Homo sapiens: one gene and its partner. The protein of the gene in region 2 interacts with the protein of the main gene of each other region in a biochemical or structural test. Each region holds a gene or a part of one and is shown on either strand. Other genes may lie near its edges.

Region 1 (3,695 bases), on a different chromosome or scaffold from region 2:
ATGTCCTCATATATTCTTATTTCCCTTCTGGGTATGGCATACCCAGTTTAGCATAATGCTGTAACTTCTTGTTAAAGAGACAAAGCCATCACTAATTTTTTTTTTTTTTGGCATATAGTTAAAAGTGACTCAGAAATTTAGATTTTTTCCCTTTGGGAATTTAACAGTGGGAAGATAAGGTTGGTTTTGTTCTGGATCTCCTTCTCCAAGGCCAAGTCACAAAAGCTAACTGGACAAATAAAATCTAAGTGTCCAAAAAAGTGCAGTAAGTAAATGTGAGATCAAACTGCATTTGTATATGGGAGCAACTGCAACAATTGTGTCTACATAAAATCTATATACTTACTGCTTCACACAGCAAATATGCCCCTGAATGGTTGTGATTCAAGCATATGTTTAACAATCAGATCAGACAGGAGTTTGACTAGATGAACTTTAAGCTAAAATGAACAAGTGTTTCCTAAATCCAAGGTAGAATAATGAACACGATCTAATAATTAAGCGTGTGGGGCTGTGACTGGGGCAGGGTGAAGCCCGAGACACAATTGTGCATTCCCCAAAGTCTTACTACAGAAGACTATAAGCAAATATTCAGAGAAAATAAATGAAAAATATAGCAAAATATTAACAGTGATTATCTCTGAGTGGTGGGGTACTAGATGATTTTTATTTACTTTTTAGAAGCTTTCTTGATTTTCCACATTCTCTGAAATTAGCATGCATTCCTTTATTTTATTACATTGAATTTTAGTTTAAGTAGAGGAATGCTGAGAGAACTGACTATTAATAGTGAATACCTTGGCAAAGCATCTGGTAAAACAAATAACCACCATCTGCATATTTGTTTTGGTAATTGAGTCTCTCATTTACCAGTTTTGCTTAAAGGTAGTCTCATCCATGTGGTTTTGTTCACTGTAGAATCCTCAGTGGTTAGCACAATGTTAAACACATAGCACATAGGGAGCAGGTATCAGTTTACGTTTTAAAGAAATAAATGAATTTTAAAATTTGGAAAACATTAATTGAGTCTCTCTGCTTATAAATATGATTTGCAAATTTTATGGATTTGTGAAAATCAAGCCCTTTTATCGCCCTGCAGGAACAGACATCAAAGCCAGCACATAATGAAACATAATGGAGGATGGATCACCTCCATTACTGAGTTGGCGAAGGGTCCTTCCCTGTTAGGTAGGGGTGTCTGACTAATTGGTAGTTAATAGCAAGAGTGTCACTGCTTTTGAGTTTATCATCAACTCTTAATTCTCTGTAGTGTTAGATGGGAACAATGACGCAGCGAATTCCCAAATCATTTGTTCGGTTTGGAAAAGAGGTATGATTTTTCCCCAGAAGGTTTGCCTCCTAATTCTTTTTCTTTTGGACAGTGCCTTTCTTGGGAGTGTTGCCTACCTGGATGATGGGGAAGGTAACCAGAAATAGACTGGGGCAGCGGGAAGCCAGCCTGGGATTAAAATGTATCATCCTTTAGCCTTAGTGCTGAATGTAAAGTTCACTGGTGCCATTTGAGAGGGATAGTACCTTTTCTTTGTACAACACTTCAGATCTGTGGAGCCTGTGGGAGAAGTGAGTGCTTTTTTTTTTTTTTTTTTTTTGAGGCTTTTTTTCTGTCTTTGCTTTTTCTTTTAAAAAATCTCAGGAAGAAAGTTCAATGGTGTTGGAGGGATTATAGCCAACTTGCCTTAGATTAGGAGGATTTCTTCCCTTTTCCTCAAATATTTTTTTTCTCCTCTTGGATGTGGAGAGGAATAAAGTCCATTGATTTTAGTAAAGTTGAAGGTATCTCCTCTTACAATGGAAGATTTTTTTCTTTAAAAATCTCCAGGGGAAAAGATTCATTGCTTTTGGTGGAGGTGGGGGAGCATCTCTCTTTAGGTCTGGAGGATTTCCATTAAAAAATAGGTTTTGTGGAGAGGACCTACAAGGGCAACTTGTTTTAATGAAGCTGGGGAGCCCTCCCTAGTAGGATTTTTCTTTCTTTCCTTTTCTTTAAAAGAAACAGTTTATTGGGAAAAATTAGAATGGGAGACATCTCTCCTGGAAAGATTTTCTTTTCCTTTCCTTGCTTTTTTTTTTTTTTTTTTTTTTTTTTTTTTTTTTAATGAAACAGTGAAGGCTGAAAGATACATAAGGTCCCTGGGATAGGGTGAGATTGGGTACATACCCACCACCCCCCCCACACGCACATTCCCCACCTTGAAGAAGCTTGAGAAAGAGATTTTGTGTGTGTGTGGTTTTTTTTTCCTTATTGTGGGGGATGGAGAGGGTAGTCATCAGGAATAATACGCAATGTCTGCAGTAAGGTGTTGGTGCATTTTCCTGGAGAGAATTTCTTTCTTTGATCCTTTAAAAAATAATCCCTTTGTTAATTTTCTTCTTCCTCTTTCCCACCCCTCCTTCTCTGCCACCTTCACTCTATCCTACCTAGTCCTTTTCCCCTTCCCTTCACATTTCTCCCCCCATCCTCCTTCCTCTCTCCCTCTCCTTTCCTCCGTCTCCCCTTTCTTTTTCCCTCTCCTCCCTTCTCTCCCCCTCTTTCTTTTTCCCTCTCCACCTCTCCCTTTGTCTCTCTCTCTGGCTCCCTCCCTTCCTCTGTCTCTCTCCCTCTTTTTTCCTCTCCCTATCTCAGTCTCTCCCTACCTGCTCCTACCTTCCTCTCCTCTCTACCTGTCCGGCTTTCCCCCTCCCTCCCTTCTCCCCTCCTCCCTCTCTTCCTCTCTCTGTTTCTCTCCCTCCTTCTCCCTTCTCTTCCTTCTTTCTCCCTCTCTCCTTCTCCCCTCCTCCCTCCCTTCCTCTCTCTGTTTCTCTCTCTCCTTCTCCCTTCTCTTCCTTCTTTCTCCCTCTCTCCTTCTCTTTGTTTCTTTTTTGTTTTCAGAAAAATATTCAAGGACTTTGGTGAGTTTGGGGGCATCTTCATTCCTTAAGAAAAATATTTCTCTTTAAAATATACTGTTCATGTTCTTCCCTTCCCGCCCCCCATAATTCTAAATGTATTTGCTTGTTTTGAGAAAAAAAGGGGCTTTGTTGAGGCTGAGAATACTTTTGTTTAAGAGGACTTTCTTGGCTTTGTGTTTCTCCCCTACCTATCTTTTCTATTTGTTCTCAAATTACAAAAATTCTATATTAAGAATAAATCTTTTGGTAAATTATATAAATATATTAAATTATCACATGTTCCCTGAAAATATGTACATCTATTATGCATCAGTTAAAAATTAATTAAAAATAAATAAATAAAATAAAAAGAATAAAGTTTTTGAGTGAATTTGAGTCAACTCCCATTAGAAGGATTTTCTTTCATTTTTTCTTCTTTTAAAAAAATCGGTTTTTTTTTTTTTGGTTGTGTTTTGACAGGAAAATTAATGGGTCTTTGTGACATTGAAGTACTTCTTCTCTTTAAGAGGATTCTGTTTTTGTTTCATTAGTAATATCCTCTTCACCAACACATATACCCTTCCATTCTTAATTTTATTTTAAATCTTAAAAAAAATTGTATTTTAAGAATAAGGTTTATGCTCTTTAGTCATGGAGGAGTGGTATTTCTTTTGTCCCTCCCTCCCGCACCCCCCGCGCCCCTGCTTCTTGGAATTAAAAATTCTGGAGATTTGGTATAGTCAGGGACCTATCCTTTAATATTTCTTTCTTTTTTTAATTAAAATGTGTGTATCTAGAGGGGAGGA
Region 2 (4,263 bases):
CAAATTTACAGAATTTCTGACTCTGGGCGGGGGTGGATAATATGTGGAAATGGACAAACAAAAACTTTGAGACAAATTGACCCATTGAGAAGATTTCCAATGATGATAGGCTGTCTCTGTTCTAAGAAAAGCCATGTTACAATTCGTCCTTTTACTGGAGTCTTGAATGAAACTGTTCAGTTACTTTGGATTCTTCCTACTATATGCTTTTCAGATAGCATATTAAAGTTATAAATTTTGAAGTGTATTGGAAGAAAAACCCTAAATCTCCAGGCCAATGTTTGTAAATAGAAGTCCTTGGCACTCCTGCAGCAGTTTACAATGGTCATTCACATGCGTAATGAATGCTTACAGCAGCCCAAGGATGCAGGTGTTATCCCCATTTCCCCCCATTTTTCAGACAAGCAGTGACCAAGATTTGCTCACTGCCAGAGCTGGGACTCCAGCCTAGAACTTCCCTACTCCCTACTTCCCTAGAAGTCCAGTGCTTTTTGCTACTACAGCTGCCAGAGATGTCATTTCATAGCTGGTTATGTATTGAAAGTTCTTAAAAGTGAGTTAAAAATGAAAATCTTATTGAAATCAAGTGCTTTTCACAAAATATGCTGTACTCAAAACACAAATGTATCACATTCCCAACTTGTGTTTTCATCTATGATGGAGAGATAAGGAAAGCCATGTGATTAATATGGGTAGAAGGGCTGAGGACCCTCTGATAATTGCCATTTGGTCTCTACCTTTTGCCTTGCTGTCAGCAATACCTTCCTCTCCTTTCTGCAATATCCCCTTCCAAATGCTCTCCCCACTGAGCACTCCCTGCAGTATTAAGTTTTCAGATAAAGAAGTAGCTCCTATCTGAGACAGAAAGCACTATTTGTTAGGTTCAGAACAGTGGCTTGGGAGGGGATTGACCAGAAGGTACTGTTTTTGATGGGTTTCTATTATTAGCTGAACAGTCTTCAGTTGTTTTCTCACCATAACATGAGAGATTTAATAAGGTTAGTAGGTTATTGGCTTATTTCCGGTCCTGCCACATTTTTTTCTTTCATTAAAAATGCTATCTTCTGTTGTGGAATGTCTGTCATCTTGAACTAATCAACAAAAATACTATGTTTTTCTGCCGTTAACTATGTGTTGGCAATTTGAGAGAAAATACTAGAATGTAGGTTTGAAAATGATACAAATTAGACTTCAAGGAATACTTAAGAAGATTTGTGGCAGGAAAGGCTTGTGAGTAATTTAGTTGTTAGGCTGGGTTAGGCATCTGTGGATTACATCAAAGAGGATGTGCAGAGATTTTATCGGGAGCAGTGAGGTGACTTTGGCAGCTAACAGGCCACTAGTATCCTACTAAAGCTTTTGTCTGGATAGGAGCAACATGCATGTTTACAGTCTTGCAGGTAAGAGACCTTGGCAAATAATCCTCAGTTACCAGAAGATGTATCCATAACTGCCTAGCTTGCCTGTCAGTTTTTAATAGCTAAAGATATAAATCTGGGTAATCTAACTCAAATGGCTTAGTTTCATTTTAACTCAAATGATATGGGGAATTTTATGATCTTGAAAGAGCAGGTTTTGCTTCGAGAAGCCATTTCTTCAGTATGGAATAATGAGTTGTCAGGAAGATTGAGTACAATGGGCATTTGCCCTGGTCCTAATCAACAGCATTTGGACCCAGAGGAAGCCAGCTATTTTTGTAAGGGCCATTTCTCATCATTAAGTTTCCAAGTGCTTTTTTAGGGTTTGTCTAGTAAAAAGCACTATTTTGAAAAACAAGCATAGTAAGGGTAGGGGGTTGTGGCATTTAATAGTACGTTTTAAAAAGCTAATGGAAATACTTTTAAAACAAGATTTAGGACAAATTCCTTAGGCATCAGTCACACTAATGCATCTTCTGAGTCAAGAACTGGCTATCCTTTCTGTGTACTCAGTCCGGAATTGCATGTGGTGGGTGCTTACTTATTTGCAGTCTCAATCAAGAATTCTCACTCTCAAGATAGCAGAAATAGATAAGCTTCAACTGACAAATTTGGTACAGAAGTCATGGAAAGGAAGGTAAGTCTTTTGCCAGGCATCATGCCAGGCATCAGCATCTTTCAGGACTAAGGAAACAAAAGAGGAAAACTCGATTTTACTACATGTTAACTCTACTGAATACCTCCTTGAATGTCAGATTCCTTATCTGTAAAACAAAGGTTTTGCATTTGATTATCTCTAAGATCCGCTTCTGCCCCCAGTTTTAAAGTTTGATAGGGAAAGAGGTTTAAGTCAGGATACCAGGCCAGGGAGGAAAGGAAGGGAGGGCACAGGCCTCTGGAGTTCAGCTGCCTCCCCCATTAGGATTGAAGTCCCAGCTGCTGGCTACTGCCTTGAGGGAGGTATCAGCCTTTTACTTCTGGATCTTGGCCTCTCCTTGTTCTACCCCTTCCCAACAACAACTGAACATACCAAGTGCTTGCTATGGCCCAAGCACTGTTGCAGGTGAAGCTGCAGCATGAACAAGATAAGCAACATCTCTGCTCCCCAGGCCCTCTGCAGACATGACACCTGCGGGAGACAGACACTGAGCAAGCCAGTGGATACAAGAACTGGGAAAATGAGAAGTGCTATGAGGGCAAGAAGTTGCAACTGTTTTCTTAGCTACCTGGAGGGAGGGAAAATCATTTTCTGGAAGTTTTTTTCTATGAGTTTTGTCTTAGCTTTGGCTGTCATAACAAAGTACCATAGACAGTGGCTTAAACAACAGAAATGTATTTTCTCATACAGTTCTGGAGGCTGGAAGTTGAAGATTGGGATGCCAGCATGGTTGGGTTCTTGCGAGGGTTCTCTTCCTGGCTTTCAGATGGCCGCGTTTTCACTGTGCCATCATCTGGCAGGGAGAGAGAGAACACATGAACTCTGATGGCTCTTACCCAGACGCTAATGACATCTTGAGGCCTCTACCTCATGACCTTAACCCAGTTACCTCCCAAAGGCCCCATCTTCAAATGCCATCAACAATGGGGATTAGGGCTTCAACATCTGAATTGGGGGTGGGGACACAACATTCAGTCCACCATAAATTTGTCATAGGAACCTGAAGATGAGGAGCCAAGCACAGTTTTTAGAATTTGCATAAGTTGTAGATTACTGTAATTATTGTTTTTGCCTCTATGGCTGAGAAACTTTGGGTCAAAACGAGCCTTTTAGAATGTATGAATTAGTTATCTAGGTAGCCCTGAAGTTGGCTCTAGATTTATTAGAAGCTATTTTAACCATTGCATTCACTCAAGAAACCACCGCCTATCTGTGAAGCACAGTCTATCTGTAAAGCTCCCTCACAATAAATTCATCTCAGAAATATGTAGTCTCTAGTGTGTGCCCCCAACTGCTGAATGGGTAGGCCTAGCTCAGCACAGTCATTCGGGCATTAAATATGGCAGAAATGTGGTCCACCTCATGACGTGCAAACAACAGTTGGCTTGTTTAATCTGCACTGCTTTGCCAAGGACGTGTGATTTGTGAGGTGCTGGAGGGGAACCAATTTTAAGAGTCAGCCTGAGTGTCAGCCTCATCTGTCTGCTCTGACTTTTGTCTGCTCTCTAGCAGGCACTCCATCTCCCTTTTCAATTTTCTACCCTGGAAGTGCTCCCCTCCAGGGAGGAAGATGAGTCAGATATGCAGCTGTGATGCTAAATGATTCAATAGAGTCAAAAACAACACAGAACACAGGAAAACGCATTGTTTAATCTGACTCAATTACAAGTGGGCAAGGTAGGTGATGGAGGGCAAGTCAAAAGCATAACGATGTCAAGCTTTGGTAGAACCTAGCAAACCGGAAGACTTCAGGGTGTTTGGAAAGGAATGTGTAGGGGAAAGTTGTCTAAAATGCTGTAACAGCTTTCTGTGTTGCTCTTCTCACTGCCTTAGAATTTAGAGTCAAAATAATAATGATCTTTTCTTCTTTTAGATAGCCTTCCTGGCTTCAACCCACAATCAGTCTAGATTCTAGACAGTGGTTCTCAACCCTATCAGAGTCAATACTCCAGTCTTTAACAACTAATTTGAAGTGTTCCTTTTATAACAAAAACCTTAATGTATTCTTTATTGTCCTACTATAACAATGTTGTTGGTCCCTACCCCCACCGCATACCCCTTGGTTGTTACCATTTTGGTGCACTCTGAGCCCACTCCAGCTGCTAGCCCCTCCACTTCCTATCCGAAGGTATACATGTTGCATGCTGGAAGAGTCAGAAATAATGCTCTCTGGGAAGAGCTCTTAAC

Evidence for each region. The genes of interacting proteins can lie anywhere in the genome.
Region 1: the proteins of MPP4 (region 2) and DGKK interact in a test that uses a peptide from one of them, tested with the Homo sapiens proteins (one large-scale study listed by IntAct).

What each region holds. Positions count from the first base shown.
Region 1 is NC_000023.11:50,460,802-50,464,496, forward strand, and holds part of DGKK (diacylglycerol kinase kappa), read right to left. Parts: intron 1-3,695. UniProt on the Homo sapiens protein: Diacylglycerol kinase that converts diacylglycerol/DAG into phosphatidic acid/phosphatidate/PA and regulates the respective levels of these two bioactive lipids.
Region 2 is NC_000002.12:201,695,724-201,699,986, reverse strand, and holds the start of MPP4 (MAGUK p55 subfamily member 4), read left to right. Parts: upstream 1-1,342; 5' UTR 1,343-1,400; intron 1,401-4,263.